2 linked regions of the Homo sapiens genome follow. The protein of the gene in region 1 interacts with the protein of each later gene in a pairwise test. Each region holds a gene or a part of one and is shown in the gene's direction. Other genes may lie near its edges.

What was found.
Region 2: the proteins of TMEM255B (region 1) and HSD17B13 interact in binary tests that used the Homo sapiens proteins (3 or more experiments, as listed by UniProt).

What each region holds. Positions count from the first base shown.
Region 1 is NC_000013.11:113,765,643-113,769,460, forward strand, and holds part of TMEM255B (transmembrane protein 255B), read left to right. Parts: intron 1-472; coding exon 473-615; intron 616-3,455; coding exon 3,456-3,518; intron 3,519-3,818.
Region 2 is NC_000004.12:87,309,322-87,313,139, reverse strand, and holds part of HSD17B13 (17-beta-hydroxysteroid dehydrogenase 13 isoform A precursor), read left to right. Parts: intron 1-2,780; coding exon 2,781-2,897; intron 2,898-3,818. UniProt on the Homo sapiens protein: Plays a pivotal role in hepatic lipid metabolism. In vitro, it catalyzes the oxidation of a variety of lipid substrates, including 17beta-estradiol, retinol, retinal, and leukotriene B4.

The sequences.
Region 1 (3,818 bases):
GCTGTGTGCGTTCCTCTCTCCCTGCCCCTCCCCTGGTGGCAGCCCCCTCCCCCACTGGGTGTGGCTGGGATAGGCGGATAGAGAGGGTGTGTCTGTGAGCGAATGGTAATGATAAAACAGTAAACAAAAGATGCTCCTGTCCTCCTGGGGACACCAGGGGGAGAAAGTCAGATAGAGGAAGAGGCAGCCAATAGGAAGGAGTCCTTTCTAGTTTGCTTTCTTGAGTTCTGTGACAGTTAGAATTAGGTTTGGCCGCAAATACCAGGCTATCCAGTATAGTGGCTTATGGTCCAGAGATTTTATTCTGTTATCTAATGGAGGTTGGGGGTGGTCCCCTGAGGTGGGCCTGGAGGCAGGCGGGGATAGTGCATCCCAGGACCCCTGGGTAACGGAGCACGGCCCAGAGCCTGCTGGCCTGACGCCCTCCTGAGCCTGAGCCCTCACTGACAGGTCCTCGCCTTCCTCCCCACAGAAGGGCTTTCGAGGAGGAAGAAGACGTCGCTCTGGTTTGTGGGGTCTCTGCTGCTGGTGTCCGTCCTCATAGTCACCGTCGGGCTGGCTGCCACCACCAGGACGGAGAATGTGACCGTTGGGGGCTACTACCCAGGGATCATTGTGAGTGCGCCGGGCGGGCGGCCTGGGCCGGGGAGGGCAGGGTGGTGTGTGGCTCTCTCAGGGTGGAGTCCACGCCAGCTCACAGGGCTGGGGCTGAAGGTGGGGAGGCTTCGATCAGTGCTTGTGGTCGGCAGGGTTATGGCCCCCACAGACATGCACTTCCCAATCCCCAGGACCTGGGACAGTGGCAGGTCCAAGGCAGAGGGGAATTGGGGTTGAGGTCCAAGTTGATCTCAAAATAGGGCCAGGTGCCCTCCATTGTCTGGGTTGGCCCGATGTGGTCACAGGGTGACCAGAGGGCAGGAGGGGGGCCAGAGCCCGGCAACAGGAAATGTCCAAGGTGGAGGAGGGGCCAGGAGCCCAGGATGTCCAAAAAGGCCGGACAGAGCCTCCCCAAGCATCCTGGAAGGATTTTACCCTGAGGGACCAGGTCGACCACCATAGCCCATGGAAGGGGAAAGTAACTTTAAACGATTCCTACCAAGAAGCCGTGGGTCAAAGATCGTATTAGTGACGTGATCGCGTGGGAACGGCCAGAAGGTGGTGGTGCTGACCTCATCCACCCGTCAGGCCAGATTTTGAACAGTAAGGCGGCGAGGTAAATTGATGGTAACCTAATTGGCAAGAATTGGTCACCCAGATTCAAAAGTATCAAGGTTTTTTGAACTATGAAATTACATCCTCTGTCGTTAGTAAAAGAATTCTCCTAAGTGCCTGCATTCTGCACAGTGAACCTCTGTTGGAATGGCTTGGATCAGCTGCGATGCCCTTCACATGCCCCAGAGCCTGGTTGCTACGTCATAAAGTGCTAAAGCAAGATTTTAAAATGCGGCTTCTTCAATCTCATTACTCTCACCTAAAGTACTACCAAGATTGGTAATAATATTGATGACAATCAGCAAAGATGAAAGATTTTTGGCCCTAAGTATTTAGAAATATTTTACAAATACTGTTTATTTCACCATTATATTTTCCTTTGTTTATATCTTAGGGTGTGCCTTAGACATCTACACTATCTACCTGTGTATAGTTTATGAATAAACATATACAAATAGTATCTATGCAGAAAAAGCTTTATCAGTAAAATTGCAAGAGGCCAATGGTGTGGGGACCTTGGCCTCATGTGAGGGGCTTTTCTGCTTCCTGGGCAGAAAGGGGAGCCCAGAGGGCAAGTGGCTGTGAGGAGGGACCTCCAAGTGATTTGCGAAACATCAAGATCAGCCTTGAGTGGTTGTTTTTTTTGGTTTGTCCTCAAGCTTATTTAAGAGCTGCCTCAGAATAACATAATGAAAAACATCAATGGCTAATGCCCAAGCTATGCTCTGTAAAGAATCTACCTTCTGGGCAATGAATTAATGCTGTGCTGACCAGATTGAAATGGCCTGTAGTACAGACAGTTCTGAAAGCAAACTAGGGAGACAACAAATAAAAGCAGCTTCAAGGAAACGTGGCTAAGAGTCACTTCTGTGGAGACTTTCTGCCAATGTAGAGACTTAAGAAGCTGATCTCAGAAGAAGCGGCCAGAACGTGAAAACATCTCCACATTTTCAAGAAAGGTGTGGTTTTTTTCAAATCCCCAAAAAATAAAACGTAGTGTAACAGATGTATTTTAATACATGTATATCGAAGTGAAATTTTGATATTTTTGACGTGTGGAGTTGAACTGCAGTATTTTGAAGCTCAGCACATGAAGAAATATTCCTGTTATCCCTGGAGAATTCTCAAACCGTTGGTGAAAGCCACATGTGTACGTGTCTATCACCACAGACACACAGACAATTACAGAAAAGGCAAAACTATTTACATAAAGAAGTCCGGTTTCCAGTGCATTAAACTTGACACCACGGCCCCAGCAACTCCAAGGCTGTGCCGGGCGGGCCACCCCTTCCAACAGACACTCACTGGGAAGTGCGACCGGCCCGGCGCACCTGCGTGGGAGCAAGAGCCGTCTTAGGCCTCGGCACGGTCGTTGGCAGGTCCATGTTGGCTGCTCTGAGCCAGATTTTCGGTGGGTGTTGCTGAAATGCATGTTCTTCACACTGATTTTAAAAATTCCTCTGCCAGGTGGGCGTCACCTGCCAGGACGGGCCCTGGGTGGAGGGTGCGGATGCCCGGCCGGTGGCCTCTGTTCTAAGACAGCACAGTCCCATGTCTATTTCCCGACATCCCAGTATCATTTTCTGCCCAGAGCTGGGGCTTCCTGTGGAGTAAGGGGGCTCTGCCGGACCCCTGGTGGCCTGTGCTGCAGCCCGGGGCCCCCTCTGTGCCTGGCCCAGGTGCCCCCTCTGTGCCTGGCTCAGGTGCCCTTTCCCCACACCTGGCACCTCCCTGCTAACGGTCTGCCCTGCTCACTCTCCCGAAGCAGCAACCAGAGTTAGGCCGTCTGAGCAGGGGTCACTGGTGGCCCTTGTGCCTGGCAACCCTTCTTTTGAAACACGGCTGTAGTTCCCTAATACCTTACCCAGGAGCCATGCTCAGGGGCATCTCAGGCCTGGAGAAGACGGGACAGATGGTGGTGCTTGGTGGCCCTGGGTTCCCGAAAAGATGTTGTCTCTGGGGGAGGAGTGGGAACTTCTCTTACCCCAGAGTCACAAGCCAAACAGATGCATCATTAAAAACCTCTGAGCAGAGAAGACAGGACAGGTGATGTTGCAGAGATGCCTGCCCAACGCCAGCAGACGCACCTGCTGCTCAGTGGTTGAGGTTCTTGAGGTAGGGATGTCTGGCCTTCGTCCCTGGATAAAATGCCTTTGAGGGCGGGATTATTTGCTTTAAATGTCAGTGTTAAGCTTCTAGGCACGTTAATGAGTGTTTCTCTCTCGTTCTTCCTTTGGTTTTAGCTCGGCTTTGGATCTTTCTTAGGAATTATTGGCATCAACTTGGTGGAGAATAGAAGGCAAATGGTAAGAAAGTACATGGGGTGGTGGGGAGCATGAGTCCCTCATCAGGGGATGGTACAGCTGCACTGGGGCTCTGAGAAGAGTCAGCCCTGCCTCCCCAGCACACTGGTGTCTACAGGACCAGCTCTGAGGTTCCCGGGCTGTGGCCTGCACAGTCCTGGATACAGGGTTCAGCGAGTACCATTCACACCTTAGTCTAAGCGAGCATGGCCCTGGGTTGCTGGTGTATCAACCTCACGTGGTGTGCAACCACCAATGCTGAGGCCTGGGAAGCTCAGAGAATGCATGAAGTTTGGGACGGGG
Region 2 (3,818 bases), on another chromosome or scaffold:
GGAGTCCTTCATGGTGTTAGACCATAGGTACTGTTGACTAAAGAAAAAAAAAAGTTTTTGTTTTTATTTTTGTTTTTTTTGAGACAGAGTCTCACTCTGTCACCCAGGCTGGAGTACAGTGGCGCGATCTCAGCTCACCGCAACCTCCGCCTTTCTGGGTTCAAGCAATTCTCCTTCCTCAGCCTCCTGAGTATTTGGATTACAGGCGCCCACCACCACGCCTGGCTAATTTTTGTATTTTTAGTAGAGACGGGGTTTCACCATGTTGGCCAGGCTGGTCTCAAACTCCTGACCTCAGGTGTCCTACCTGCCTTGGCCTCCTAAAATGCTGGGATTACAGGAGTGAGCCACCATGCCCGGCCAAAAAAATAAGTTTTTAAAGAATTAAAGGTCATCCTGGCTAACACAGTGAAACCCCGTCTCTACTAAAAAACACAAAAAAATTAGCCGGGCGTGGTGGCGGGCGCCTGTAGTCCCAGCTGCGCGGGAGGCTGAGGCAGGAGAATGGCGTGAACCCGGGAGGCGGAGCTTGCAGTGAGCCGAGATCGCGCCACTGCACTCCAGCCTGGGCGACAGAGCGAGACTCCGTCTCAAAAAAAAAAAAAAAAAAAAAAAAAAAAAGAATTAAAGGTGTTAATTTTATTTAGAAGCCTTACTGAAGACTACAGTCGGAGGCCTATAGCCTGAGAGCAGCCCTTTAGAGAGGTTCAGTTGAACTGTTCTGATAGTGGGGGCCATGTGCTCTATCCTGTATTGTCTTCAAAGCATCTTTCCAGAGAGCTGCACATTGTCACAGAGTCAGGGACTTTGTGAAATTATGCTGACAACCAGAAGTGAGTAAACGTGGCTTCTTACATTTGCTACGTTGTCTCACAGTACTTAATAAGTATGCAATATGTAAGTAAATACTATAGTACTATTGCAACTCCTGATTGTTTTCTTAGACAAGGAATTGGGCCCAATAAAAACCCTCTTGGTAGGCATTCAGGCTTCGTGTACCATGAGCTTTCCTAAGGGTATCCTGCCACTCTTGGGGAAGGCATGATAGATGAGGGGAGTAAGGATAATGGAACTCTGGGTACAGGGTTCCTGGGGGCTAACTTAGAGGTAGACACAGGCAATGCTAAATATTTGGGATTGATTTTATAGAGGTTGCTAGATTGTGAATTTCCTTAGTAAGGGCTAAGGCATTGATATGTAATGTCACACTTGGCTCCGAGGCTGGGTTGTTGGATCCATGTAGATGAAATCAGGGAGAGAAAGGGCAGAACGGAGTAATTTAGAAATGTATTGATTTGTATTACTCTCTGTTGGCTTGCTATTCAAGGCAGTGGAGAACTCAATCACATAATAATCTGCAGCAAACCACAGATCATCCCAGGGAATGAAGTTTTAACATTCGCTGGCTCCCTAACTCCTCACCCAGCCTTTACATTCACTGGCTGTTCAGTCCATGCCTGGACATCTTAATTTGAATACAACATTTTAAATCCATTTTTCTGTCATCATCTTGCACTAACAGACAATTCTACACTAAGCCTATGTTTATGAATATTTCTCAAGAGTACATGTACACAGCCTTCAGTATAAGGAAAACTGGAAGTATGACATACCTCCAGTTGTCATACTCCTTGGGCCCCTCTTAAATTCTCATTAAACTGCAGGATAGGCAAGTCAGAGGTGAATCTCAAATACGAAATTCTTACCGGAAAGGGGTTCCAATCCAGACCCCAAGAGAGGGTTCTTAGATTTCTCGCAAGAAATAATTCGGGGCAAGGCCACAGTGCAAAGCAAAAGCAAGTTTATTAGGAAAGTAAAGGAGTAGAGAACAGCTACTCCATGGAGAAGAATGGCTTGAGCTGCTCCACCAAGGGTATTTAGAGTTACTTCTTGATTATATGCTAAACAAGGGGTGGATTATTCATGAGTTTTCCGGGAAAAGGGTGAGCAATTCCCAGAACTGAGATTTCCTCCCCTTTTTAGGCCATATAGGGTAACTTCCTGCCATTGCCATGGTATTTGTAAACTGTCATAGTGCTGGTGGAAGTGTCTCTTAGCTTGCTAATGTATTATAGTTAGCTTATAATGAGCAGTGAGGACAACCAGAGGTCACTTTCATCACCATCTTGGTTTTGGTGGGTTTTGGCCGGCTTCTTTACTGCACCCTATTTTATCAACAAGGTCTTTATGACCTGAATCTTGTGCCAACCTCCTATCTCATCCTGTGACAAAGAATGCCTTAACTTCCTGGGAATGCAGCCCAGTAGGTGTCAGCCTTATTTTACCCAGACCCTATTCAAGATGGAGTTGCTCTGATTTAAACGCCTCTGACAAAATGACGACCTCAAAACAATCCAGCTTTATGGAATACCTCCACAAGAAAGAAAGTATACTTAGCTATAGAATTTTCTCCTTGCATCCAACAGGCTTTGAGATGTCAGATGTTTCCTTCCTGTCCCATGATTAATCCTAGCCATTCCTCTTTCTTGTCTGGCTCCACTACTCCTTACCATCTAATGCCTCGCCACCATTTTGATATTTTGACTAAGTGAGCTATGAAACACACCTACTGGATATGAAAGTATAAGTTTCTGATAACAAAACATCAACATGGGATGTGGAGGAAGTGGGTAGGGTGGCATTAATGCAGCAAATCCTGGAATATTTTAAATCTTCATTCTAAATTTAGTAAAAATATAGGATAATTTTCCTGCCATCATTTACTTATAAAATTAAAATTTTAGAAAATAAAAATAATATTTTCCTCTTTTTAATCACAGATTATGGCCTGTATTGGAGACAGATGAAGTCGTAAGAAGTCTGATAGATGGAATACTTACCAATAAGAAAATGATTTTTGTTCCATCGTATATCAATATCTTTCTGAGACTACAGAAGTAAGTACAGCACAGAACACCCAAATACTAAAACACCAATAGAGCTTTTTTTTTTGCTTTTTTTTTTTTTAGACAGAGTCTCACTCTGTCACCCTGGCTGGATTGCGGTGGTTGCAGTGGCATGATCTTGGCTCACTGCAACCTCCGCCTCCTGGGTTCAAGCAATTCTCATGCCTCAGACCCCCAAGTAACTGGGATTATAGGTGTGTGCTGCCACACTACACCCAGCTAATTTTTGTATTTTTTGATAGAGACAGGTTTCCCCATGTTGGCCAGGCTGGACTCGAACTCCTGACCTCAAGTTATCCTCCTGTCTCGGCCTCCCAAAGTGCTGGGATTACAGTCATGAGCCACCATGCCTGGCCCAATAGAGCTATTATTATGGAGCATCTTTCAGTTGTGAAAATTGGCATGGAAACTCTCCATCCCTGGGGAGAACAGTTATTTCCTCTGTTATTTTCCTACCCAGTCTATAAAAAGAGAGTGATTCATTTTCTCTACCAAATCTACTGTCTCTGCCCAAACTTTGCTGAAGACTATTCTAACTAAAGGAAACACAGTTTAAAAAGAATGCAATATAGTGAAGTAGTTAATAATAAAGACTCCATTTTTAAAAGTCTGCTGGAAGTTTGGTTGGGATTGCACTGAATCTATAGAGCAATTGGGGAGTATTGACATATCAACAATATTGAGTTTTCTAATCCAAGAACATAATATCTATTTTTAAAATCTTCTTCAAAATCTTTAAATCTTTAAATTGTATTTTGTAGTTTTTGGTGTTTAAGTCTTGCACATATTTTGTCAGATTTATTCCAAAGTATTTCACGGGTTCTTTTTTTTTTTTTTTTTTTTTTTTTTGAGACAGAGTTTCACCCTTGTTGCCCAGGCTGGAGTGCAGTGGCGTGATCTTGGCTCACTGCA